Regions from separate parts of the Homo sapiens genome. Here all the other regions are linked to region 3. Evidence: fine-mapped expression QTL. A gene starts in region 3. Each other region holds a variant in brackets. All regions are shown on one strand. Distances are between the middles of the regions.

What was found. PIP is the estimated chance that this variant, and not a neighbour inherited with it, causes the effect.
Region 1: its variant is the best candidate, but not a certain one, in a credible set for the expression of PNP in sun-exposed skin (GTEx, PIP 0.74).
Region 2: its variant is the best candidate, but not a certain one, in a credible set for the expression of PNP in whole blood (TOPMed, PIP 0.75).

What each region holds. Positions count from the first base shown.
Region 1 is chr14:20,490,289-20,498,881 of GRCh38, reverse strand. No RefSeq gene overlaps it. Among named protein-coding and RNA genes, the nearest start is that of RNASE10, 11 kb to the left of the region's middle. RefSeq lists an enhancer at 7,112-7,211. The variant G/A (reference allele first, on the strand shown) is at 4,936.
Region 2 is chr14:20,416,540-20,426,489 of GRCh38, reverse strand. It overlaps KLHL33 (kelch like family member 33), which reads left to right. Exons shown (of 5, transcript NM_001365790.2): 5 at 1-638. Among named protein-coding and RNA genes, the nearest start is that of TEP1, 8.0 kb to the right of the region's middle. The variant T/C (reference allele first, on the strand shown) is at 3,873.
Region 3 is chr14:20,461,514-20,471,781 of GRCh38, reverse strand. It overlaps PNP (purine nucleoside phosphorylase), which reads right to left and starts at 2,376. Exons shown (of 6, transcript NM_000270.4): 1 at 2,247-2,376. The coding sequence starts at 2,257. RefSeq lists enhancers at 1,685-1,814, 1,845-1,914, 2,105-2,609, 9,684-9,763, 9,096-10,061 and 2 more and silencers at 2,325-2,444, 10,254-10,268.

The sequences.
Region 1 (8,593 bases), 28 kb before region 3:
GTTCTTTCTAACTGAGTGATTTGGGCAGCTTCTGCAATCTTGGAAGAGTTTTGCTAATAACATATGAACCGTTAAACAAACCACAACCACTCTGGTGCAACAGAAACTTCCAGAACCAACAGTCTACAAAAGGAGCTCCCCAAAATCACATCTAATTTATGAATCACTCCTGCCAAGAAGTTCTTTGTTTTTTTACAGCCTATACCTCTGCTAGAAAAGATGCCAGCTCTCTGATATTCTGGGTGTCATCCTCGATAAAAATCATGCTCAGGCCGGGTGCAGTGGCTCATTCAGCCTGTAATCCCAGCACTTTGGGAAGCTGAGGCAGGTGGATCACTTGAGCACAGGAGTTTGAGACCAGCCTAGGCAACATGGAAAGGCCCTGTTTCTACTAAAAATACAAAAACTAGCTGGGTGTGGTGGTGCGTGCCTGTAGTCCCAGCTACTTTGGAGGCTGAGGTGGGAAGATCACCTGAGCCCAGAGTGTTGAGGCTGCAGTGAGCCGATATCACACTGCTGTACTCCGGCCTGGGCAACAGAATGTCTCAAAAGAAAAAAAAAATTCAAACATTTTTATCAGTGTAAGTAATATTCACTCTCTTCTTTGAAATAGGCTTAATCATTATCTTTAGAGATATTTCATCTAAAAATTATTGGAGATGACTTTATTATCTGGTTGTATATGTTGAAGAAATAACCAAATTTCTTTGTAAGTTGCTTTTTTTTTTTTTTTTTTTTTTTTTTTGAGACGGAGTCTCGCTGTCGCCCAGGCTGGATTGCAGTGGTGCGATCTCGGCTCACTGCAGGCTCCGCCCCCTGGGTTCACCCCATTCTCCTGCCTCAGCCTCCCGAGTAACTGGGACTACAGGCACCCGCTACCATGCCCGGCTAATTTTTTTGTATTTTTAGTAGAGACAGGGTTTCACCATGTTAGCCAGGATGGTCTTGATCTCCTGACCTCGTGATCCGCCCGCCTCGGCTTCCCAAAGTGCTGGGATTACAGGCGTGAGCCACCGCGCCCGGCCTGTAAGTTGCATTATTCTTATCATGAGCCTGCATAACCTTTCACATTTGAAAATTATTGGTAATAAACTAACCACAGTCATTTTAAAGCTCTGTCACCTACAGATAGTTTTTGCTCTACTCTAATGTTTGCCTAAAGACTCTGCTATAAATTACAGGCCACAATTTGTGTCTTCAATAAAGAAGGACAGTCTCAAAGCCTCATGAAAAACGATTGTACCAGATATTTCAAACTATTAATACTTCAAAGCATATACTTGGATATAGGCTTTTGATGTAACATCATTTAGACAATTTTTAGATCAGGCTGGGTGCAGTGGCTCACGCCTGTAATCCCAGCACTCTGGGAGGCCAAGGCGGGTGGATCACCTGAGATCAGGAGTTTGAGATCAGCCTGGCCAACATGACAAAGCCCTGTCTATACTAAAAATACAAAAAAAATTAGCCGGGAGTGGTGGCGGGGGGCCTGTAATCCCAGCTACTTGGGAGGCTGAGGCAGGAGAATCACTTGAACTTGGGAGGTGGAGGTTGCAGAGAATAGAGATCGCACCACTGCAGTCAAGCCTAGGTGACAAAGCCAGTCTCCATCTCAAAAAAAAAAAAAATTTTTTTTATATCAAACCTGTAGACTGACTCCAGATTTCCAAAACTCATTTTAGTTTTTTTATTTAAAAAAAAAACCTCTTCATGACAGTTAACTCAAGTTTCAACAGAATAAGAATTAATTATGTAAAGCTGAATGAACTTATAAAGAAACGTTGTAGTTATTTGTTTGGAATATTGTTTTAAAGTTCTGCTTTAATGTTGATGTTGTTTTAATGTTCTATTCTGAACATATAAACAAGGTTTTTTCCTTTCTTCTTAAAATCTCTCTAATTCATAAGTTAGGAGCTTTTGAAAATTAAAATATTTATCAAAAATAAACATTTTTAAATGATATCTGATTCTTACTGACCCACATACTCCAACTAAGAATTCAGAAACTCTTACCTCCTTTCTTACTTTTTATAACAGTATAGTTATCTGAATAGGTTCAGCAAGAATCTTTTCTCTTTTTTGCCAGGATATAACAGAAAAACAGTTACACAACCAAGGTGTGGGCCAGAATGTCACTTTTGAGAATGGTGCTCCTTTAATCAGCTTTGATGAGCCAATGCCTACAAAATCCTCTCAGAAAAACCCACCTGGGATCTGGCTTACAGAGTCCCAGTCTTGCAGGAGGTGAGGAAGGTCACTTCCTAGTTCTTGGTTCCTTACCTTCTTGGCAGGTAAGAAACTTCAAGAAAATATGAGAAACTTGAGAAGAAAGAAATTCATCCAAATGTATAGGTACTGTGGGTAAAAATCTAGTGGAAAGAGATTCTTGAGCTTGGTTTTTCTAACCTCACAACAGCAAATAATAGAGGCTTTTAAAAGTCAGTCTGAGATTTCTTAAGGAAACTTCTAGAAAGAAGTTCATTCTGTGGCCTTGTGAATAGTATATGGCTCTAGATTTACGAAGCAAACTTAAGAAGGCCTATATGGTAAATAAAACTCTTCCACCTGTGGAAATAATCAGGCCAAACCGTCAGGATTGCCCTTTTACTTATCTTCCAGCACACTGAGCTGAGAGCTTCCTATGCCATCTCTCTTCTTGTCCTCAGTGCCAAGCAAAGTGTGTGGAACAATGAAGGTAGTCAACAACATTTATGAGAAGAATAAATATCAGGTTGTGAAATAGCTTTCGCACCTGATTCCAACTGTGAGGCGGCAATGGAGAGCCAGGGAGGCAGGCAGAGGCACTGAACTCATCAAGCTTGGTTTCCTCTGCCCAGCCTCAAGTTGTACCATGGGGAGACAGAGACTCCATTAAAAATAAACTCACAATTAACTTTAAAATACTGCAGCAATAAACAAATAAGTAAAAATAACAAAATAAGGAGAAGAGATGAAACAAGATGAGCAAAATGTTGATTACTGTTGAAGCTGCATGTAATGGGCACTTGGGGATTAAATCATATGCTTCTTTCTAATTTCAGTGCATGTTTAAAAATTTCCATAATGGAAAGGAGAAGAAAGGAAAGGAAAAGGAAGGGAAAGGTAAAGGAAAGGAAAAGGAAGGGAAAGGAAGGGAGGGGAGAGCAGGGAGAGGAAGGAAGAGGAGGGGAGGAAAGGGCAAGGGAAAGGGAGGGGAAGGGAGGGAAAAGGGAGAAGCGGGGAGGGGAGCGGAGGGGAAGGAAGGGAAGGGAGAAAGGAAAGAAAAGAAAAGAAGAAAAGAAAAAGAAAGGAAAGGGGAAAGGACAGGAAAGAGGAAAGGAGAAAGGAAAGGAAAAAGGAATGAAAAAAAAGAAAGAACAGGAAAGGAAAGGAAACTTGAAGGGGAAGGAAATTACAAAAAGGAAGTCTGCTGGCTTTGTAAGGAAGGGGGTAATGAGTAAGTTCAGGCAGTTTTGTTTCATTTTGGGTATTTGCACCAGTATTCGAGGTGTCCCAATCAGAGTGACTCATCTTGAATAAAGGCCAGATGAAGCCAAACCTGCTGGGTTACTTTCCCAGGAAATTGGGCACTGTTAATCACAAAATGTTTATGGTTGAGGAAATGAGTTGATGGAAAAAGGCATTCTTAGTTTAAAAATGGGTTTCTTGGATGGCATGGTGGCTCACACCTGTAATCCCAGCACTTCAGGAGGCCAAGGCAGTTAGATTGCTTGATCTCAGGAGTTCAAACCAGCCATGGGCAATGTCAGGCGTCTGAGCCCAAGCTTGCACGTGTAAGTATCCGGATGGCCTGAAGCAACTGAAGAATCACAAAAGAAGTGAAAACAGTCGATTCCTTCCTTAACTGATGACATTACCTTGTGAAATTCCTTCTCCTGGCTCAGAAGCTCCCCTACTGAGCACCTTGTGACCCCCACCCCTGCCCGCCAGAGAACAATCCCCTTTGACTGTAATTTTCCACTACCTACCCAAATCCTATAAAACAGCCCCACCCCATCTCCCTTTGCTGACTCCTTTTTTGGACTCAGTCCGCCTGCACCCAGGTAATTAAAAAGCTTTATTGCTCACACAAAGCCCGTTGGTGGTCTCTTCACACGGACACACGTGACAGGCAACATGGTAGAATCCTATCTCTATAAAAAAATAAAAATAAAAATTAGCTGGGCATGGAGACTGAGGTGAGAGAATCCAGAGGATCAAAGAGGATCGAGTCAAGGAGGTGGAGGCTACAGTGAGCCAAGATCGCACCACTGCACTCCAGCCTGGGCGACAAGAGTGAAATTCTGTCTTAAAAAAAAAGGTGGGTGGGAGGGTTTCTTGTGGTGGTGAAGGTGTAAGCAAATAAACACATAAAAATAAACATGGGTTTCACTTTAAAGATAATACTACACTCATAAATTATTGCTGAAATCAATAGTTACACCGGAGAATAACAATACTAATAGCCTGTCACAACTTGATCACAAGCCTTTATAATAAAGTAAACTATTCTTTTTTTTTTTTTTTTTTTTTTTTTTGAGATGGAGTCTGGCTCTGTTGCCCAGACTGAAGTGCAGTGGCGCAATCTCGGTTCACTGCAAGCTCCGCCACCCGGATTCATGCCATTCTCCTGCCTTAGCCTCCCGAGTAGCTGGGACTACAGGTGCCCACCACCATGCCCGGCTAATTTTTTGTATTTTTAGTGGAGATGGGGTTTCACCGTGTTAGCCAGGATGGTCTTGATCTCCTGACCTCGTGATCCACCCACCTCGGACTCCCAAAGTAAACTATTCTTAACCTTAATATCCTGTATAAGCAAGCATTACATTTAAAGTAGGGGCATTCCTCCTCTTGCTCTCTGAGGATGCCCTACTCTGTAATAGAGTAGTTTCTAATGAACTGTTTTAACTATACTGTACTCTGCGCCCTGTCCTTAATTCTTTCCTGCTCAAGATC[G/A]AAGAACTTGCTCTTGAGGTTTGGAACAGGAATCCTTTTCCAGTAAAACCAGTAGTTCAAACCACTCCCTGCTCCACCTCTGACTTCCTCTTTTGTTTTGAGAGAGGATCTGCAAGACACTAGCAGTTTTGAGGAAGAGTGAGCCCTAGGGAGGGAAATGCTCAGTGGCTCTGTACTAGCTCAACTGTTGGAAGTCAGCCTCACCCCACACACTGGCCTTTTCCTGATCCCTTTCTGGTCTGAGAATGGGCAGTGGCCAGATACTGCCATGAGTAGATGGGAGTGAAAATACTTAGAGATGAAGAGGAGGCAGGAGAAGGGGAGCTGAAATTTTCAAACAATTGTCACTGTGTGATATTTCAACTTCAGATAGTGGCCAAATAAGTTTCAGTGGGAACTGCGTTCAATCCAAATGACAAAACCACTAAAGTCTGAAGAAGATGTACCAGCTAAACTGGTAGCTTCTAATCTTTTGATCATCATGGGTTCTTTTTTCTTTCCTTTTTTTAAATAAAATTTTAAAAATTCCTTCCCAGGTAGCTGGGAGTACAGGTGGGCACCACCATATCCAGCTAATGTTTTAATTTTTTGTAGAGATGTAGAGATGGGGTTGCCCAACCTATTAGACCCTTTTTATTATTCCCAGCCCCCATAGGTCCCTATAAATATTTGTTAAGATATAGTTGTAACTTAGCAAATGTATCTGGGGGACCATGTCCAAAAAAACCAGATGGACACCCAGAAAGGGTTTCAGGAGGTGGAGGCTGCACAATTATCCAAGATACATTGGATCCTATCCACAACTTACAGGTGCAAACTTGATCTTATCTGAGTTTTTCAGTTTCTTTTTTTTTGAGATGGAGTCTCACTCTTGTCGCCCAGGCTGGAGTGCAGTGGCGTGATCTCGGCTCACTGCAACCACCACCTCCCGAGTTCAAGCTTCTCCTGCCTCAGCCTCCCAAGTAGCTGGGATTACAGGCACCCGCCACCACACCTGGCTAATTTTTGTATTTTTAGTAGACATGGGGTTTCACCATTTTGGCCAGGGTCATCTTGAACTCCTGACCTCAGGTGATCTGCCTGCCTCAGCCTCCCAAAGTGCTGGGATTACAGGCATGAACCACTGTGTCCAGCGCATTTTTCAGTTTCATGCGAGTTACTCACACCAACCAATCCCCAGTTAAAACTATGAACAAGATCTACATTGAAAAATATGTGCAGTGAAAATAAACCTGCCCCATACATTCTCTCCCTGACTCAAGTGGGAGACCAAACCTCAAAGAGATGATTGCTTGGTGAGCATCAGTGGTCAGCAGCGTCACAGTTCCTTCGGGCCAGGATAAGCTTGGGAAAATGTTTCTGACTTGAAATTAAGAAGTGAGCTAGTGTGTTACTCCTGGACAATGATGGTTTAGTAGAAAGCAATTCTCAAAATTTAGAATTTCCCTTTCCAATTTCCAAACTCTCCTATCTCCTTCTTAAAATACATTAGCATGTTTGTTGATTTGTATTCTTTTATACTCCACCTCATTCCAAGATAGGATTAAAGTCAGCTTGCAAAACTGTCTGCAATAAATAATCACACAAATCAAATTTAGGTGAGAGAAAAGAGGCAGGATACAACTTGATTGATTATGCCATCACTGTATCGAGGCTAAAATCATTATGCTTCCTGAAGCCAGCATTTTGGTCCCCAGAGCTGAAGTGTGTGAGTCCTTAGCCCTAGGTGATAGATTAGAAGTTTGGATGGTTTAATTCTACAAATGGTGACTACTATTTACCAAATGCTGATTTGACCTGATGTAATTCTCAGGTGGTACTAATAATTTCAAGTGTTGAAGAAATTTTGCCATATAATATTTATACCTATGAATCACCACTTTATTTTCCCATTTGTACTAATAAAAATAAATAAATAAATGAAACTTACCAGAAAAGGTTTTTAGTAAGAATGAGATGACCACAATGGTTTGAATAGTTCAAACAAACTTAGTTTTAGTTAGCATGTTGTAGCTTTATTCGGAGTAAATGTGTGGTTTCCAGTAAGATGCCTGACATGTTAAAATTAGCTCACAGACTTTTTGACGCGTAGAAATAATCTTGAAAGGACAGCCAACAACCATAACGAGAAACAAAACAGAAACCACCTAAGTCAAGAAGGTAGACACAAATGCCCCTCAATTTGCAAATAGATATCTCCCCTGCACCAAGAATCACCCCATGGGAGGAGCAACTAAGTTAAAATTTCAGGATGAAAGGGTTTGCTTTCTCTTCATGAAACTGTGTCTAGTACTCTGGTCAGGTAATGATGATGATCAAGGTAATATTAGTGATCCAAGGAGCAGAGGCTTTTTCCATGCCAAGCCCATATACCCTGATAGGGCCACCAGGTGGACAAGCCAGTCCATCTGCACGATGCTCCTAAAGGGCGGGTCACAGAGCCAAAGAAAGGAATGACTCGCCAGAAGAAACTCTGCCTTTTCTGAACTTTTTTTTTTTTTTTTGAGACAGAGTCTCACTCTGTTGCCAGGATGGAGGGCAGTGGCGCGATCTCGGCTCACTGCAACCTCTGCCTCTTGGGTTCAAGCCATTCTTCCATTCTTCTGCCTCAACCTCCTTAGTAGCTGGGACTACAGGCATGTGCCACCATGCCCTGCTAATTTTTTTGTATTTTAGTGGAGACAGGGTTTCGCCATGTCAGCCAGGATGGTCTCGATCTCCTGACCTCATGATCCCCCCGCCTTGGCCGCCCAAAGCGCTGGGATTACAGACGTGAGCCACCATGCCTGGCCAGCACTATTTTGAGTTCACAGACTAAGTTCACTTGGGATGGCAGATACTGGCTGATATGGTTTGGTCGTGGTAGTGAATAAGTCTCACGAGATCTGATGGTTTTATCAGGGGTTTCCACTTTTGCATCTTCCTCATTCCCTCTTGCCTCCTCCAAGTAAGAAGTGCCTTTCACCCTCTGCCATGATTGTGAGACCTCCCCAGCCATGTGGAACTGTAAGTCAAATTAAACCACCTTTTCTTCCCAGTCTCTGATATGTCTTTATCAGCAACATGAAAACGGACTAATACACTGGCACAGAAGTTAGCACAGAAGAGTTGTCCGTTAAGGTTTGGTGAAAGAGACAGGAAAGGAGAGGAAAGGGAAGGAAGGAAATAGGGAAGAAGGGAGGGAGGGAGCCCTGAGCAATGCGTGGAGGTCAGCAGTTAAGATTAGCTCAGCAGGAAGGAAGCGTCCTGGGCTTCCGTGAGAGGTGACCTCTGACAGGCTTCCAGGTTCCTGTGCTCTTTGAGAGAGTCTTTCTTATCCCCTCACCCAGTATACAGGTACTTTGGCCTGGCCTGGCTGGCCAGATATGCAGTCGAGGTTTTACCTTCAAAGATGACAGCTAGAGAAATAAGAAAAGGGAAAGCATTCAGAATCCATTATAAGACGTACTGATAAGTAACACACATGCAGATCTTATGAATTAATGTGGATCTTCATAGGTAAGATCTTCATAATGGCAATGCTATTATGTAAGAGAATGTCCTTATTCTTAGAGATGCGTGCCAATATATTCAAAAATGGACTGATAGGCAAATTGTCTGCAGCAATTTACTTTCAAATGGCTCAGGAGAAAACAAATGTATGTAGCAGATTATTGAC
Region 2 (9,950 bases), 45 kb after region 3:
AGAGTTTTACTCTGTTGCCCAGGCTGGAGTGCAATGGCGTGATCTCAGCTCACCGCAAACTCTTCCTCCTGAGTTCAAGTGATTCTCCTGCCTCAGCCTCCCTGAGTTGCTGGGATTACAGCTATTACATCTGGCTAATTTTGTATTTTTAGTAGAGACGGGGTTTCTCCATGTTGGTCAGGCTGGTCTTGAACTCCCGACCTCAGGTGATCCACCCACCTCGACCTCCGAAAGTGCTGGGATTACAGGCGTGAGCCACAATGCCCGGCCTGTGTAGGTCAGTTTTCTATTACCATTGTTTATTAAGATTTTCATGTTTCTAAGGGTGATGATGGAGTCTCCCTTGCACCCTTCTTCATTCTGGCCCCAGAAGTACTTGGCATGTATTTTATTTATTTATTTTTAGATTTCGTTATTTTAGTAAGATCTTTTTCTGTATCTCTATTTAAGATAGACTAGGAATGTAATTGAAAATGAGAAGGGGTAAGTAGGATGTATAAGAGAAAAGAGAAGGAAGAATAAAGAACGGGAAGAAGGAAATTGAAGGAGATGACAAGCTCTCTGGATGAACTTCTATGAACATTTTTTGTGATTTGTACCTAAAGGCAGACTTAAATAAAGGTTTCATAGTGACTGAATCTTTCTTATCTGAGTTTCTCTACTATAAAAAGCATTCAAAATAAAATTCCCTGTATTCTGCCTTCTAGGTCTACCACATGATTGAAATCATCTCCCTCCACTGTTACTGTGACCTGCTTCTTACCAAATCTAACAATCTGTGGCCATCTTCATTCTCTTTCATCTTTCTACAGGAACTGATTGGCGTGAAAACTGGCTCTTACCCTAAAAATTTCTCTTCTTCTGGCTTTAGAGATAGCACACTCTCCTGGATGGACCTTCTCTTATTTCTCCAATCCAAAATCCAGTAAGCCAGATCAAAGTGTCCAGGGGGGTGTGGCTTCATCCTTGGAGCTGATAGCCAAGGATCCACAGGTATGTGGATGAGGGTGGTTCATTGCAGAAAGTTCTGACTTTCATTATTTGTCTTTAAAACTGAGGGAAGAGTGAGGAGAGAGGAGACCTCTGACTTGAAGGAGGACCCTAGTCAATAGTCCATTCATCAGTGAGAAGGGACTGAATATAGGCAAGGTAACAGTCTGGGTCTTCAGCCAGGCAGACTAAGAATAGGGTAATATCAGGGTAACATTTCAACCCCAGAAGGGAAGTGGAGTGAGAAGTAGGAATTGGGATAGAAACTATGCATACAGATTGGGCAGCCGTGGTGGTGACCTGGCAAGACTAGTTTGATGACTGTAGAGGCCTGGGATTCTTACCTTTGGTGAATCAGATGATAAGCCAAGGTGTTCTAGATGCTCTCTAATAGCTCCCCCAACAGTCTTCCCTCCACCCCCTTTGCTGGTGAGGGTGAAATTTCTGATATCTCTCTTATCTTTCCAAGGTTGACTCAGGTACTGGGTAGGACTGGACATGCAGGTTAATGTTTAGTACAAGTAAGTGTGTGGGACTCTAGGTATCACTTGTCTCCTGTGCCTAGTCCTGGCTGGGTTGCTCACGTTCTTCCTTTCCTTTGTTTTATGCTCCCTGTCAGGAAGCTCACCTCTCCTCTGTCTCCAACCTTGATGGTTCGCCTGGGTTCTAGTCTGATTTTTTTCAGTGATTCTCACCTCCATTTAGATGTGCCAGCATCATTAGTTCAGATTCCTCATGCTTTATTGGCACTATCATTTCTCCTATTTCCTGGGCCTGAAGCTTTGGAATCCTCTTGAGCTTATTTTCCTTTATCTTTTCTTCTTTACTTGACTCATCATGTAATACTGGACTACCCAAAGAAAAACTGACTTAGTGTCTTCTCCCAATCTTTTCTGTGTTAAATATAATATATACGGAAAATTTTTAGCCAGGTGTGGTGACACATACCTGTAATCCCAGCTACATGGGAGGCTGAGGCACGAGAATTGTTTGAACCCGGGAGACGGAGGTTGCAGTGAGCTGAGATTGCACCACTGCACTCCAGCCTGGGTGACAGAGTGAGACTCTGTCTCAAATTAATAATAATAATATATGGAAAATTGATAGCAAGGAAGGTTTAAAAAAATAGAAGAGCAAATTTATATGAAAATTTCACTAGCTGTGAAACCAAGAATTATTACTTACCCAGACAGACACTCTGGGTTGTAGAAGCAACAATGTTCAATCAAAAGAATGAAAAAGTGCCAGGCACCGTGCTACATGCCCATAGTTCCAGCTCCTCAGAAGGCTGAGGTGGGAGGATTGCTTTAGCTCAGGAGTTCGAGTCCAGCCTGGATAACATAGTGAGACCCCATCTTGAAAAAAAAAGGAATAAAAGAAAAATTGCATAGAAAGATTATTTAATAGAATTATAGAATGGAGAGGTTTCAGAGATCATGTAATTCAAACCTTTTGTTACACAGCTTAGGAAATAAAGTTATGTGGTACACAGTCTGGATAATGAAGAGGAAGGCTTTTCATGAAACTAGTCTCTCACATACATTAGGACCAACAGGCAGGCTAAGACAAACATCACAGACGAGGTCTATAGACAGGACAGTCATAATTACTCTTTCAGGATCATAGACTATATCCTAAATCCTGTCTAGCCCTTGAGATCAAGGAGCCCTAAGTGAAAACGTGTGAATTCATCACAGCTCCTGGTAAAACACCTACCAAAAAAATTATAGATAGATAGATATTTATGTGTATATACATACATACATATATATCATTAGTGGTGAGATTATAGTCTGTTTTCTCTGAGAGAGAAATGATCATGGTATTATTACTGTAGCTGATTCAGAATTTAATAATCTATATTTCGTGTTTGATATGTTTTGGATCTGTGTCCCTGTGCATATCTCATGTCAAATTGTAATCCCCAGTGTCAGAGGTGGGGCCTGGTGGGAGGTGATGGGTCATGGGAGTGGTTTCCATGGTGGGTTTAGCCCCATTCCCTTGGTGGTGTTCTTCTGGTAGTGAGTTTTCGTGAGAACTTGTTGTTTACAAGTGTGTAGCACCTTCTGCCTCACTCTCTTTCTTGCTCCTGCTCCTGCCATGTAAGACGTTTCACGCCTCCTTTGCCTTCTTCCATAATTGAAAACTTCCTGAGGCCTCCCCAGAAGCAGATGCTGCCATGCTTCCTGTATAGCCTGCAGAACCATGAGACAATTAAACCTCTTTTCTTTATAAATTACCCAGTCTAGGGTATTTCTTTATAGTAATGTGAGAACAGACAAATACAGTATTAGAAGAATGACAAAAAAAACGTATAGCCTTGAAAGTGTACTGAGCTAGATTCAGTAACTTGGCTTCAAGTTTCAATTCAATTGTTGCTTTGGTAATTATGAGTAAGTCCTTTAACCAGTTTGAATTCCAAGTTCGTACCCCATAAAATAAGCACCATAATGGTATTGTAAACACCACAGTGTTATTATAGCTCATGAACCCCAGAGCTTGGGACAGTCCTAAGGACCTCTAGGCACATTTGGAAAAGTGTGCCTTGGTAATCTATAAATCAAGTTCCTAGGACATATCCTTTTAGATCAGAGAGCTAAATGATGCCAAACAAGGAGGCCAGTATACCGTAGTGACAGGCTCCTGAGACCACGAGTACCGTACAGAAGGTTATAAGCTACTCCAGCCTGATGTACTCCTGAGACAGGGAAGCAGATTCATCTGGATTCCAAATGAGGCCAAGGCATATAGTTAGAGAGCTATGTATCAGTTAGTTGGTGTTTTGTTTTGTTTTGTTTGAGACAGAGTCTTGCTCTGTCTCCCAGGCTGGAGAGCAGTGGCGCAGTCTCCGCTCACTGCAAACTCCACTTTCTGGGTTCAAG[T/C]GATTCTCCTACCTCAGCCTCCCGAGTAGCTGGGATTATAGGCACATGCCCGGCTAATTTTTGTATTTTTAGTAGAGACAGGGTTTCACCATGTTGGCCAGGCTGGTCTTGAACTCCTGACCTCAAGTGATCTGCCCGCCTCAGCCTCCCAAAGTGCTGGGATTACAAGAGTGAGCCACCGCGCCCGGCCTATATATCAGTTTGACTAATTGCCAGGTAGGCAATCTGAGCCCCAATACACACTTTTCAAGCAAGCTGTCACTGATGAAAGCCAACTCTTTCATTGCAGAGTAAGAACTGCTTGTTTTATTTTTTATTTTTTTGAGACAGAGTCTCACTCTGTCGCCCAGGCTGGAGTGCAGTGGTGCGATCTTGGGTCACTGCAACCTCCGCCTCCCAGATTCAAGTGATTCTCCTGCCTCAGCCTCCAGAGTAGCTGGGATTACAGCAGTCTGCCACTATGCCTGGCTAATTTTTGTATTTTTAGTAGAGATGGGATTTTACCATCTTGTCCAAGCTAGTCTTGAACTCCCGACCTCAGGTGATCCACCTGCCTCAGCCTCCCAAAGTGCTGGGATTACAGGTGTGAGCCACTGTGCCCAGCCTAGAACTGCTTGTTTTAGATTATAGTTATCATTGTTTGTGCTAGCTATATGCCAGGTGGTATGCTAAGTGCTTTATGTATATTATCTAATTTGAATGACAATACAGTCCATAAAAAGCGGGTGCTATTATTATTCCCACTTTATAGATGAGAAAACTGGAAGATTAGAGGAGTTTGTAAATGTTGAGCATGTATTTAAACTGGTAGAAGGACTTTATTATGCCCCCTCTCTAATGTAGCTCCATCTCCACTTGAGTGGCAAGCTTTATCCATGAAACTCATACATGGGCTCTACAAGTGGGAGCAATGAGCGAGTATAAGTGCCACTGGAGGTTTGGAGACATGGTCTTGAAAAATTAACATCCAATTGCTGTAATGCAAATAGCTGTGAATTTAAAAGACGCTCAGCCAGAGAAAGGGGCAGTGGGTTCTTCCTTCCAGCAGTTTTTTTCACTTATTAGGATGTATTGAGCTGGGGATTGTTATGAAAATGAGACAGGAGGTGAGACTTTTCAAACGGAGAACCTAGCCTGACCCCTTTGCCAAATCAGCATCATGTGATCTTACTGCAGACTCAAGGACCACTCTCTGGCCCCTTTGAGGGTTGAGATTATTAACCTTATTTTCTTCTACAGCTTAGGTCACACTGCTAGTCAGTAGCAGAGGAGGATTTAAACACAGATCCATTGGACCAGGTGTGGTGGCACATGTTTCAAGACCTTTGTCTCAAAAAATAAAAATAAAAAAATAAAAAATAAACCCAGATCTGTTGGACTCCAGAGTTCATGTTTAAACAACCATATTTAATATATAATATATTATCTGGCTGGGTGTGGTGGCTCACTCCTGTAATCCCAGCACTTTGGGAGGCAGAGGTAGGCGGATCACCTGAGGTCAGGAGTTCAAGGCCAGCCAGGACAACATGGTGAAACCTTGTCTCTACTAAAAAGACAAAAAATTAGCCAGCGGTGGTGGCAGGTGCCTGTAATCCCAGCTACTTGGGAGGCTGAGGCAGGAGAATTGCTTGAAACCAGGAGGCAGAGGTTGCAGTGAGCCGAGATTATGCCACTGCACTCCAGCCTGGGCAACAAAAGCAAAATTCCATCTCAAAAAAAAAAAAAAAAAAAAAAAAAAAAAAATATATATATATATATATATATATATATATATATATGTAATATACTATCTTCACCCATATCTTGGATTGCAGCCAAGTACTCCAGTTCTTCCCTGATTATCTGAATTCCCCTATTTTTTAAATTCTTCCTACAAGTCATTAAAATGTTCCAAGTTCACTATTTTTTTTTTTTTTTGGGACGGAATCTCTCTCTGTCACCAGGCTGGAGTGCAGTGGCACAATCTCAGCTCACTGCAACCTCCGCGTTCCCAGGTTCAAGCAATTCTCCTGTCTCAGCCTCTCGAGTAGCTGGGACTACAGGCGCATGCCACCATGCCCAGCTAGTTTTTGTATTTTTAGTAGAGATGGTGTTTCACCATGTTGGCCAGGATGGTCTTGATCTCTTGACCTTGGGATCCGCCCACCTCGGCCTCCCAAAGTGTTGGGATTACAGGCATGAGCCACCATGCCCGGCCTTTTTTTTCTTTTTCATTTTTTTTTTGACACGGAGTTTCACTCTTGTTGCCTAGGCTGGAGTGCAGTGGCGTGATCTTGGCTCACTGCAACCTCCACCTCCCAGGTTCAAGCAATTCTCCAGTCTCAGCCTCCCAAGTAGCTGGGATTACAGGTGCACGCCCCCACACCCGGCTAATTTTGTATTTTTAGTACAGACGAGGTTTTACCATGTTGGCCAGGCTGGTCTTGAACTCCTGACCTCAGGTGATCTGCCTGCCTCTGCCTTCCAAAGTGCTGGCATTACAGGTGTGAGCCACTGTGCCCGGCACCAAGTTCACTATTTTGAGATCCAAAGTTTACTTCCAATTACCTCTGCCTCATCCCATCCAAAAGCAGGACTCAAATCCTTTTCGGGATCAGGTGTACTGTTTTTGTCTCAAAAAAAAAAAAAAAAAAAAAGTAGGATGATTACAGAGTACCCTGATGTAAACTGTCTTATGTTTTGCAGGCCTAGTGTACCAGTTATCATTTGCTGCCCAAAACTTTGTGACTTAAAACAACAACCATTTAATCATATCTCACAATTTTATGTGTAACTGACTTCACTAAATTTAGGCAGGCTTCCACTAGATGATTCTTCTGTTTCATGTGTCATTAGTGGAAGTTACTTGATAATAGACAATTGGTAGATGAACTGGTCTGAGGGACTTAAGACTGCTTCTTTCTCCACTAGGGCACCAGACAGGGCACATGTCTGGTGCCCTGGTGGAGATGGCTAGAAGGCTGAGCTCAGTTGAGTGTGTTAATTGAAACACCTACATGTGGCCTCTTTAGAGTGGCAGTCTTACGGTAGTTGGACTCACATGGCAGCTCAGGGCTTCCCAAGGGAGTGTTCCAGAGTCCTGGAGGAAGTGCAAGTTTCCTTTGACCTAGCTTCAGAAGTCCCAGAATGCAACTGCTGCCACATTATATTGGTCAAGCAAGTGACCAGGTCAGCCCAGTTTCAAGAAGGAATTAGACTCTGCCTCTCAATGGGAGAGGAAGCAAAGAATTTGTGGCCTATTTTAATTACCATACCCGATTAGGGAGACTAGTCAGTGAGGAATGTCCTTGAAGAAAGATGAAGAAAGAGGTCGGGCATGGTGGCTCATGTCTGTAATCCCAGCAGTTTGGGAAGTTGAGGTGGGCGGATCACCTGAGGTCAGGAGTTTGAGACCAGCCTGGCCAAGATGGTGAAACCTTGTCTCTACTAAAAATACAAACAATGAGCTGGGCATGGCGGTGGGTGCCTGTAATCCCAGCTACTTGGGAGGCTGAGGCAGGAGAATTGCTTGAACCCAGGAGGCAGAGGTTGTAGTGAACCGACATCGTGCCACTGCACTCCAGCCTGGGCGACACAGCAAGACTCTGCCTCAAAAAGAAAAAAAAAAGAAAGATGAAGAAAGATATTGGCAAATGTCCACAGACCAGAGGCCAAATGCAGGGTTGTTTTGATTCAGAAGAGTCAGAAGGGAGAAGACACTGAGGTTCTTGTAATCTGCTTTCAGATGGCCCAGAAGGGCTTGTCTGAGGTGACAAGTGGCTATCCAGTAAGTGTGTGCTTGTCCACATATCACGGCTTGTGTGATGCTTTAAGTTGTGATGGTTAGGTCAAACAAACGTATACTGTGAATCTAAAGGTAATCATTCACAAAGAAGAAAAAAATCAGGTAAAACCAATGGCCTTTCCACTTCCTACTGGTCACTCCCCTCCCAGCTTATCAGAGGCCTGCCCTTCCCAGTTCAAAGTCCATCTCTCCAGGGAGTTGCTTGAGATCCTTGCTCTCACCTATATAACCCTATAGTTTGTCTCTTAGTCCATTATAGCACTTCTCTTTATCTGCCTTGTATTTTTGTGATTTCTACATGTGTCTATCTCTACAAGATGATGAAGTCTTGAGAAGAAGGCATGTTGTATACATTTTACCCATGTACTAGCACTATTCTTTGACAGGGGATTAGCAGATGTTTGTTGATCAAAGTAGAGGAGGACAATGAACATGCAAGAAAACTGACCACAAGTGAGCAATTTTAACAGGTGGTAGGACCCTTCCCAAAAGGGAAGACTGAGGGGGTGGCACTCCTTTGTCCCAGAGACAAATCTGGATATTACACCCATCAGTTGGCCATCGCAGCTCAATGCTACTAATCAACAGTAAGGTGGTGTTGGCCTATATGCAGGAGAAAGTGAATGGTCCTTTAAGAACTTGCAAATAAGGAATGTAAGATGGTTCTGTGAGAGTTAAGTGATTTCATTCCAGTGGGAAATGGCACATCTTCCCAGCCCTGGTATAGTTATTTGATTGGCAAAACTCCTGATTTATTCTAATGATAGTCATCTGAAGAAAGATTGGTTCAACTCAAGGGAATGGCTAACTTAGGAAAGCATGACTCAAAGAAGCAAATATTGGCAATATGATTAGCACTTCCTACGGGTATGAAAAGCTGAATTTGAACATTGTGAACATCTTGCCAGTTGAAAGGTTTTCTCTGTTGCAAGGCAGAGATAGTTTATCTGGCTCCTCAAAACACAGCTGAAATGTCCTTTAGGGATCATTCAGTGGCTGTGTGATTGGAACAGAACATCTGGGAATTGGGCCAAATTTTTAATTTATATATGCAATTCAAGTGTGACAGGTGCATTATTTACTACCTACCTCTGCCATGTGGTAGGTAGTAACTATCGCTTCTGTTTAGGTAATCATCCTAGATTAATAGTTTTTTAAATGTTTACCTCAGATCAGAGATAAGAGTCATGATTACCTGAGAAATTGCTGGAAGTGCAAATTCTCAGGTTCCATCTCAGACCTACCTACTGAATCAGAAATTTTCAAAAGAGATGAGCAACAATCTTCGTTTTAATCAGAGCTTTTTTTTTTTTTTGAGACAGGGTCTTGCTTTGTCACCCAGGTTGCCAGGGCACGAACACAGCTCACTGCCGCCTCGACTTCCTGGACTTAAGCAATCCTCCTGCCTCAGCTCCAGAAGTAGCAAGGACTACAGGTGTGGGCCACCATGCCTAGCTAATTTTTTTTTTTTTTTTTGGCATCTTTTATAGAGACAGGGTTTCACCATGTTGCCCAGGCTGGTCTCAAACTCCTGAGCTCAAGTGATCTGCCCGCTTAGCCTCCCAAAGTGCTGGGATTATAGGCATGAGCCACCACACCCTGCCTAATCAGGGGTTCTTAAATTTAAGCATGTACCAAAACCAACCGGACAGCTTGTTAAAATACAAATCACTGGGCCCTGACCACAGTGTTTGGAAATATAGATTCTCAGGTTCCACCCCACTTGTCTGGATCAGTGTTTCTCAAACTTTAATGTGAGTGGGAATAACCTGAAAATATTGTTAAAAGATTCTGATTCAGTAGATCTGGGGTAGAGCCTGAGAGTCTGCATTTCTAACAAGGTGATGTTGATGTTGTGGTCCACAATCCCATACTTTGATTAGTGAGACCCTCGAGCAGAGGTTCCTAAACTTTTCTGCACATTAGTATCACCTGATGTCTCCATCCACTGGTGCTGCTATACCAAAATACCTGAGACTGGGTAATTTTATAGATAATAGAAATTTATTTCTCATAATTCTGGAGGCTGGGGAAGTCCAAGATCAAGGCACTAGCATTTGGTGTCTGGTGAGAACATACCTTCTTGCTGCATCTTCTCATGGCAGAAGGTGGAAGGGCAAACAAAGGAGTGATTGCTGGTTTCTTCTAGCCCTTTTATAAGGCTGCAAACTCCATTCATAAGGGCTCTGCTCTCACGACTTAATCCCTCCTAAAGACCCCAACCCTTAATATTATCACATCGCAGATTGAGTTTCAACATGAATTTTGGGGGACATATTCAGACCATAGCACCT
Region 3 (10,268 bases):
ACTACTATGAAGGCAGAGATAAACTCAAATTTCCTTTTGAACCCTCATTCCTCCAGTTCCTTCCTCAGCCAAAGACTTAAGGGCTACATTTCTTTTTTGTTTTAACCAATAAAACACAATGGGACCACCCCTGGTAGAGGTCTACGTGCCATTCTTAGCTCCCTGGATCACAAGGGGGTTAATTCCAGACAAAAAACTAGATAAACTGCTGTACAAAAAAGCAGACCCAGTCCACAGTACTGGTTGTCAAAGGTTAAACCAGGACTGACTACACAAATTCTCAGCAGAAGCTTGTTAGAAAAACAGATTCTGGCACTCCAGCCTGGTGACAGAGTGAGACCCTATAAAAAACACACACACACACACACACAAAACCCCCACAAAAAACAGATTCTGAAGCCCATGTAATTTTGATTTTAAAACCAGGTTTAGGGGCTGGGCGCGGTGGCTCATGCCTGTAACCCCAGCACTTTGGGAGGCCGAGGTGGGCGGATCACGAGGTCAGGAGATCGAGACCATCCTGGCTAACATGTTGAAACCCCGTCTCTACTAAAAATACAAAAAAAAAAAAAAAAAAAAAAAAATTAGCCGGGCGTGGTGGCGGGCCCCTGTAGTCCTAGCTACACGGGAGGCTGAGGCAGTAGAATGGTGTGAACCCGGGAGGCAGAGGTTGCAGTGAGCCAAGATCGCTCCACTGAACTCCAGCCTGGGAGACAGAGCGAGACTCCGACTCCAAAATAAATAAATAAAAATAAAATAAAATAAAACCAGGTTTAGGAATTGCTGGTCTGGAGGGAAGCAGAATTCGACCTAGATTCTAGTCCCAATATTGTCTTTTTAGGCATGTAATTTGTGCTTTAAATTATTTTCTCAGGTATAAACAAGGGATGTAAATTGGCCCCATCTATCTTATAGGCTCAATCTGAAAATGAATTGAATACTTGCTAACAACTTCCAAAGACCTATGGCTCTGTTACACAAAGTATTTGAATCTTTCTCCTGCTTTCCACCTGCCTGTGGTCTTCTTCCTGTCCTTCCCCCTCCCTGCCTCCTCCCAGTTTCCTTTCTCTCCACCGAGGATCTTTGCTCTTCAGAAACCTCAGGGCACTTACCCAGAACCCCTACACTAGCAAGAATCAACCCGTGTTACTTTTCTCCCAGTTCCAAGTCCAGTTCTCTCACATCCATCTGGGAAGACCAAACGTTGCTTTCAGAGGTGGCAATGAGGTGTGACAGAGCTGAACACAACTAACCAAGCTTTCACAGGAAATTTTTTACTTGGAAAGCAGAGCCCGGGAAACCAGACATGATTGCACAATACACCAGGCTACCCTCAGGGAAGCAGTTGGATCAGGTAGGTTGGGGGCTGGTCAACGGAGCCACAGGACAATGGAGAGAAGCAATTAAGCTGGTAAAATGTTAATCAAATGGCATCCCCAAAAGGTGCAAAGGAAATGAATGTGTGAAGCTGCCGCCACATGGCATGTCTAGCCACATCTCACAGCACTTCCTCATTGGCTATCAGTCCCCTCAAGAACACCCTGGCTCCCTGGGCATCCAAAAGCAACTGTGATGCCTAATGCAGGTCACTTGGACTGGGATATCCAGGACCCAAGCCGAGAGAAGAGTTTTCAAAGGCGTGGGGTGGGGGAAGTGAGCACAGGACTGTTGCTCAGTTCGGTGACTGATTTCCGTCTCCACTTAGCAGTCACTTCCCACCGAGTTAATCATACTGCCAGTCTGGAAGGAAGGGAGGAGTGCAACTGGCAAAGGAGGTGAGTAATCTTGCCTCTAAAGGAGGAACTCCGAATTTGAGCACCAAAAGTACCTCGCAGCTTTACCCAGACCCTAGCATGGGAATTTATGAAGAGCGCAGGGGGTGAGGAGACCTCCTCCTGGTATGGAGTGAGGGATATATACATATACTCACTCTCCACTTGTTCCCCTAACACACACACGGAGACACACAACGGCTGCTTTTACGGAGTAGCTTAGACCGCACCGACCTGTCCCCTTCCTGCTCCGGTGGCGCCACCCCAGCTCGATTCCCGCGTGCGTCCCTGCCCGCGCTGGCTGCCGCATGACTCTGCCGCCTTGCTCCCGACACTAGGCTCAGTGCCAGGCCTCTCTGCATCCCCTGGGCGCTCGCTCCCTCCGCCAGCTCCCTCTGGGCCCAGTGTGCCAGGTTCCCGGGTCACAGCACCTGCCCCTCCCCAAGGGTCCTGCGGGCCTGGTGCCCTCCTCACCCGTTCTCCATGGTCTCGCAGACGCCTTCTCGATGAGCCTGCTCCGGTGTGCTCCGATCCGCTCCGATCCGATCGGATCCGCTCCGCTATGCTGAACTGAGCAAGGCTGCCGGGTCTGGTTCGCACAGTTGGCTCACTGGTCTAGGCTCTGGCTTATATCCCTTGCCCTGGAGTCCCCAGCCAATGGCAAGCGAGCACGCGGGCCGGCCCTGTCTCCATGGTGACACACCCTAATTCAATCGGCTGAACCTGGGCTGTAAACCTAATCAGAGTTCTTCCCAGCCCTAAACCTTCTGCCCCGGGGCGGGCGGGGGGAGCCGGAGCGCACCCAGCATTTCATCTCGGTACCCATTCCAGTCCGCAGGGCAGGAGTTCCCAGCAAGAAGGCCTATGCGGAAATAGGGCTAGAAGTAGGGAGGAGAGCCCCCAGCCCTCTCCTTGCAACCTCATTCCAGCTGTGTCAATAGCAAACCGTGAGAGATTCAAAAAGGAAAAATTTCATACCTTAGATTGTACAACCCCAGAATAAAAATGAAGCGAGACTGTGTCTGAGTTGCTCCCTGGACAAGGGAAGCTGGGTCGCCCCCGGCAACAGTGCTAACTTGGAGGATACAGGGTTTAGGAGAGCACATCCAGGCCCAGACCGGGAGAAGAAAAAGTTCTCAGGCAAGAATTCCGGGGTCCTAGATGCCGACAGAAAGGATAAGGATGGATTTGGTGGGTAGGGACACAGATAATCCCTTGATCTGCGCAATATTGATCCAAGCAATTCAGGTAACTAGAGGACTCCTCCCACGAAGAAAATTCTGTTATCGGAATACACGGGTACCAGAATATAACATAAATAGCGTGTCTTTGGTAGAATACAACTATTACTTCTGCCCACATTTACAATTTAATTTTTACATTTAATTTACATTTTTACATTAAATTTACATTTAATTTTTAATTTAAAAAATTAAAAAAAAATTTATATATAAAGGCCAGGCGCGGTGGCTCACGCCGGTAATCCCAGCACTTTGGGAGGCCGAGGTGGGTGGATCACCTGAGGTCAGGTGTCGGAGACCAGCCTGGCCAACAAGGCAAAACCCCATCTGTACTAAAAATACAAAAAATTAGCTGGGCGTGGTGGCAGGCGCCTGTAATCCCAGCTACTTGGGAGGCTGAGGCAGGGAGAATGGCTTGAACCCGGGAGGTGGAGGTTGCAGTGACCTGAGATCACACCATTGCACTCCAGCCTGGGCAACAGAGTGAGTAGCTGGTTCCTGAGAACTTACTAGCACTTTGAAAATAACAATGCACACAAATTGAAAAAAAAATTTCGTTCTTAAATAACCACAAACAGTTACTTACGGGATATGTACATCTGTTTGGCACTACTCAACTTCTCACATGCAGGAATCCAATGCTGCCACCCTCATTTTCTGTTCCATGCTGATTTTTACACAGTACTTTTTTTTTTTACTTAATACTTAATTTTTATCAGAGGGACCTTCTAAAACCATCTTTTGTAAAGATATGTTGTCTTTATATATATATATATTTTTGAGACAGGGTTTCACTCTGTAACCCAGGCTGGAGTACAGTAGCACGATCTTGCCTCACTGCAATCTCTGCTGCCTGGGTTTGAGCCATTCTTTTGCCTCAGCCTCCCGAGTAGCTGGGATTACAGGTGCCTGCCACCATGCCTGGCTAATTTTTGTATTTTTAGTAGAGACGGGGTTTTGCCATATTGGCCAAGCTGGCCTTGAACTCCTGACTTCAACTGATCTGCCCACCTCGGCCTCTCAAAGTGCTGAGAGTATAGGCATGAGCTACCACACCTGGCCAGATATATTGTCATCAAAAGGAATGTAGCACAATCTAATGTTCCAACTGTGAATCACCTCAAGTTAATAGGTCACACAGTGTTTAAGAAATATAAAATATTGCTGTGTTTCCTCTGAAAATTAAAAATATTCCACAATACCCTTGTGAGCTTGTACTTTGGCACAGTTTGGGAACCATGGCCCCAGTCACTCCATGCCACCTCATTCCTGAATCTATGTAGTGTAAATGAATGGGCTCTAATAAAACTACCTGTGTATGAATGCCATCTTCACCCCTTATTTACTCGTGTGATTCTAGGCAAGTAAAATTCTTATTATGCTTCAATTTTTTCATCTGTAAAATAGCAATAATCTTAGTATTTTTGCAAGGATTATACAGAATACCTTTTACATGTTTAGGTAAATGCCTGGATATATAATAAGCACACATTAAATGCTGGCTATTATGATTAATCTCCATTGTCTCTTTCTCTTTTGTTCTTTCTAGACTCACCTAACCATAAATTGAATCAAAATAAAAACTAGAGGTATATCCAGCCTATCAATACCAATGAATCCCACACTGTTCAAAACAGAAGGCACTAGCCATGTGTGGCTATTTAAAAGTAATAAAATTAATTAAGATGAAATATAATAAAAATAATTCAGTTACCTAATCATACTAATTACATTGTAACTTCTCGATAGTCACATGTGGTTAGTGGCTACCATATTGCATAGCATAATTACGTTTTTATGCTAGAGCACAGCACTGTTCTTATCTTTTCTAGTCACTGCCACCTTGTATCCACATAAAAGAAACTGGAACTGTGCTTTATTATTTACTTTTAGGGTAAAAGAGTTCCTGTAGCATTCCTATAGACAGGAACCAGACGATCATCAATCTTAGTGTGATTAGAGTTCATTAATGCCTTATTACCTTTTCTTCTATCTTCTCATCACTTCTATCTTCAGAGGGACTCCTTGTCCAGGAACATACTTAGTAACACACTTACCCTCCACCCGCAAGATCAAGGAAACTAAAAAAAAGTGGCAGGAATAGGTTCTAAGTCACTCAGTATTGCCTTGTGGAACGTATTTTATTCCTGCCCTCTCAACTGAGATCTCTTATTCTCTCTAGATCACAAGCTAAATATGCGGTTTTAAAAATATCTATCCCTGGCCAGGCACAGTGCCTCAGACCTGTAATCCCAGCACTTTGGGAAGCCAAGACAGGAGGATTACTTGAGCCCAGGAGTTTGAGACCAGCCTGAGCAACATGGTGAAGTCTCATCTCTACAAAAAATACAAAAATTAGCCAGGTGTGGTGGCATCTGTGGTCCCAGCTACTAGGGAGGCTGAGGCAGGAGAATCACCTGAGCCCAGGAAGTCAAGGCTGCAGTGAGCTGTGATGGAGCCACTGCACTCCAGTCTGAGTGACAGAGTGAGACCCTATCTCAAAAAATAAAATAAAATATCTACTCCCCTTATCACCATAATCTTTGGTCTTCCATTTTCTCCAATTACTGAAATTAAAACATTTTAGGGTTTTTCCCTGTTTTTTTTTTGTTGTTGTTTGTTTGTTTGTTTTTAGATAGGGTCTCGCTCTGCCACCCAGGCTGGAGTGTAGTGGCTCAATCTCAGCTCACTGCAGCCTCAATCTCCTAGGCTCAAGCGATCCTCTTTCCTCTGCCTCCCAAGTAGCTAGGACTACAGGCACGCACCACCGCATTCGCCTATTTTTTATTTTTATTTTTTTAGAGATGGGGTATCTTCATGTTGCCCAGGCTGGTCTCAAACTCCTGGGCTCAAGTGATCCTCCCACCTCAGCCTCCCAAAGTACTGGGATTATGGGCATGAACCAGCACATCCAGCCCTTCTCTTTCTGTTATAGGGATCACTTTTATTTCTCTTTTCTAAGAGTGAGACTTCCATCTGTGCCTCACTCAGTGGCAGGAAGAACAGAGCAGAGATAAAGGACTGGCCTACCACCCTCTATTCCAAAGACCTTGGCTCCTAGAAAGGGAAGCCAGGAATTCCCTAAAGGAAAGAGCAAAGAACTGAGGCCCAGGAAGAGCAAGGAGCACAAGGGAGCAAAGTCCCAATGTAATTAACGTAAATTAATTCTTTAAAACCAGGTCACACCCTACCCAATCCCACCCAACCCCCGGCAAACTACCCCTCGTCTTAGTTAACTCACTCTGCACATTACCAGAAACTTTCTGTGCCTTTGAAATGCAGTAAGGGATTGTGTTGTTTTCACACAGGTGGTAAATTACCACTTCAGGAAAGAGGAAAAAAGAAATAGGGCATGTGGAATATGTGAAAAAAAAGAAATCAGATTGGGACACTTTGGGTCATAGAAGCCAAGCAGATGTTTTCCACCCCATCCTCTGGCCATGTACACACTGTACTAGTTATCACTTTGTTGGAAATCTAAAGAAAAAAATGCTTTGAAATCTATTCTATTATATAACACAATGAAGTGTGTTCCCCCAAATTCTTATATTGACGCTCTAATCCTCATTGTGACTATATTTGGAGATAAGTCCTTTAAAAAGGTAATTAAGTTTAAATGAGGTCATAATGGTGGGGCCACAATCCAATAAGACTGTTGTTCTCATAAGAAGAAGAGAGGCCAGGCAGGGTGGTGCTCACCTGTAATCCCAGCATTTGGACACCAAAGCAAGAGGATCACTTGAGCCCAGGAGTTAGAGACCAATGACCAGCCTGGGCAACATAGTGAGACCCTGTCTCTACAAAAAATTAAAATATTAGCTAGGCATGGTGGCATGCACCTGTCATCCCAGCTACTTGGGAGACTGAGGTGGCAGGACTGCTTGTGCCCAGGAGTTCAAGGCCGCCACAGACTATGACTGCACCACTGCACTCCTGCCTGGGTGACAGAGTGAGACCCTGTCTCTAAAAGCACGGAAAAAGAAGAGAAAGAGGAAGAGAAAGCAAAAATGTGTGTAGAGAAAAGGCCATTTATGCCACAGTGAGAAGGTGGCCATCTGTAAGCTAAGGAGAGAAGCCTCAGGAGAAAGCAAACCTGCCAATATCTTGATCTTGGGCTTCCAGACTCCAGAGCTGTGAGAAAATAAATGTTTGTCGTTTATGCTATCTATAGTGTTTTTTATGTCCTAGCAAATTAATACACCTCAATAGCCTAACTGTTCTCAATCTAAGTGAGAAGATCCCACCCCATAGGTAAAAATCAGGCAATACCTGAGACACTCAATATTTACCAGAGATAATATTAAAATGGCTTATCTGTAAAATACAGGTACCAACCAATCAGAACCAATGGCGCCATAAACAACCAATGCCAGCCACCCTGTAGTGCCCCAGCTGAATATCCTCCCTGCTTGCAACTGCAGCTAACAATATTGTTCAGTACCCAGCAAATTTATCCCAAGATGGGGCTTAAGTTACTTCATTAATTAATTAGAGAGCCATCTATCAAGCAGCTTCTATGTTCCAGGCATTTAGCATAAAAGGGGGCTCATCCCAAGCACCTTCTCTCTGCCACTTCTGTGCTTCTGTCCCTTTCAATCTACCTATCAAATTATTTGAATGTAAAATATTAGATCATAAGTCAGAAGACGGGGATTTAGAGCTCCATTTCAATCTGTCACTTAGCTTAAATGACTCCAGTTTACACAGCCTCAGTTTCCACATCTGTAAAATAAAGATATAGTCTTGCCTTCCCTGTCCACATCACAGTGGGTTCTGAAATAAAATGAATATAACTATGAATGTGCTTTATTGGCCGGGCACAGTGGCTCACGCCTGTAATCCCAGCACTTTGGGAGGCCGAGGCGGGTGAATCACGAGTTCAAGTGATTGAGACCATCCTGGCCAACATGGTGAAACCCCATCTCTACTAAAAATACAAAAATTAGCTGGGTGTGGTGGCACACACTTGTAATCCCAACTACTCGGGAGGCTGAGGCAGGAGAATCGCTTGATCCCGGGAGGTGGGCAGAGATCACACCACTGCACTCCAGCCTGGCGACAGAGTGAGACTCTGTCTCAAAAAAAAAAATGCTTTATTAACTGTGAGCAAGTTCCAAATATTATGATTACTTTTTGCATTTTTCTGCCTATTGATCTACTCAACAACACAGAGCTCAGATCCTAGTTATCCATGCACAATACTCATTTTTCTTTATGTTTTAGAAGTTTTCTCTGGCTGCTCTAGCTAGAAGTGATCTCTTCTTTTCTTGAACTTGAATTACATTGTTTAATTCTTTTATTATGAAGCATGTGCTGTATCATGAATTTCTAGTATTGATATTTTTCCATGTAATAAAATACTAGTGCTGATTTTCTTTTTTTTTTTTTTTTTTTTGAGACACGATCTTGCTCTGTTGCCCAGGTTTAGATCATGGCTCATTGTAACCTTGAACTCCTGGGCTCAAGCAATCCTCCACCTCAGCCTCCCAAAACACCGGGATTACAGGCATGAGCCACCACTCCTGACCTGATATGTTATACTGTCAATGTTTACACTATTCTGTCTCCCTACCCAGAGTGTAAGCTTTTTTAAGGAGTGTCTTTCACAAAGTGTAGATATTTAAAAAATATTTTTAGGACAGTTTTTGGAATATATGTGTAACTAGGGCGCAAATAATGGATCCTACTCCAACCCCAGACAATGCTTGAGCATCTGTGTGCCACAAACAGCAGAAAAAGCAGCAGACTGGCCTCCCTCTATGGAGCTACAACCTCTTCCCTATTTTGTATCTGGAGCTTCCTTAGTTCTTTAAGTGTCTGTTAGGGGCTCTTATCTAACTGGTCGAAGGTTACTAGCTTCCAAGTAGAAGTTGGCCTGAGAAAACCCTGTCTAAAAAAATCAGGACCTAGGTGAAGTCTCCAGCCCCTGTAGCAGCCAAGTGCTGGGACATCTGCAGTTCCTTTGTTATTACATATTTGGGGCTGGCTGTACTTTCTTTGATGCACTTCCTTTCTTAGTGGAGAGTCTGCTAGCCAAACTGATAATGGACCTCCTCGGGGTTTATTGTTTTTATCAATTCCTTGTTGCTTCCCATATTTAAAGCAGTCCCAGTTTGGGCTATGACTTGGGAAAAAATCCAGGTGTGGTTCAGGCGCCCATAAAGACCACACGAGACTTCAGGTAGGGGAGGAGGCACTGCCCCTTTGCTGGAAGCAAAGTTGAGACAGGCCTAAAGACTGTCCCATCTGTCAAATAAGGTGACGAAAATAACCTTGTATTTGATTAATCCAATCTACAAACTTGTGCGTATGTTAAAGGTTGGTGGTCATAAAACTGAGTAAAGGCACGGTGGCTTGTCCCTGTAGTCCCAGCTACTGGGAAGGCTTAGGCAGGAGATCAAACTCAGGAGTTTGAGTCCAGCATAGGCAAGACCCCATCTCTATTGAATTTTTTTTTTTTTTTTTTTAGTAAAACGATGAAATCTTCTAGTAGTGGAGACACTAATGAAAAGATAATTTAACAATTTGATCAGCAATGGGGAAAGACGGGGCTCTGTAAGGACAGCTTCCAGGAAAACCCAGTCTTGTGTCCTGTCCTGAAAGTGACTCTAGCGACAAAGGCTGGAGTGATAATCTTAACTTTTTAATCCATTTCCTTCTGGTACCTCATTACTCTGACTTTTTAAAGGTACTTCTTTGAGTAGAACAGCTAACTTTGTCTACTGTTCCCCACCGTCCATTTTCTCCCCGCTCAGAAGATCCCAAGCTTCCGCACTCCTTTATTGCACCCGCCCAGCCTCCTTTAAAATGCATAAGCCACGCCCCCCATGTTCTGGCGCTAAGTTCGGGCCAATGCAGTTGCGCCGCTAGGATCACAGGACGAAAGAAGTAAAGTCACCAGCCAATAGGAAACCAGCTACAACGCAAAGCCGGAGAAAAGTGTTTTAGTGGTGTCTTTGAACCAATGAGGAGCAGAGCAACAGGGACCGTGCAGCTTCCAGAAACACGTGACCAGTTGAGCAGACGCAGCCTAGCCCTACCTCCTGGTCTGGAGGTAGCGCGATGGGCGTCGCTCCCAATAGCTTGCAGAACCTCTAGTCACGTGCAGGTTTTGCAAGCCCAGCAGCATCTGGCAGGTCATGTGACAGTTGACGTTTGTGCGTCGCTCCCCAATGGAAAAGGAGAGCTGCCTTCACAGGACCAGGAATTGGTTTATCTACGCGAATAATAGCATGACCCGGGCGGGGATAGCCTA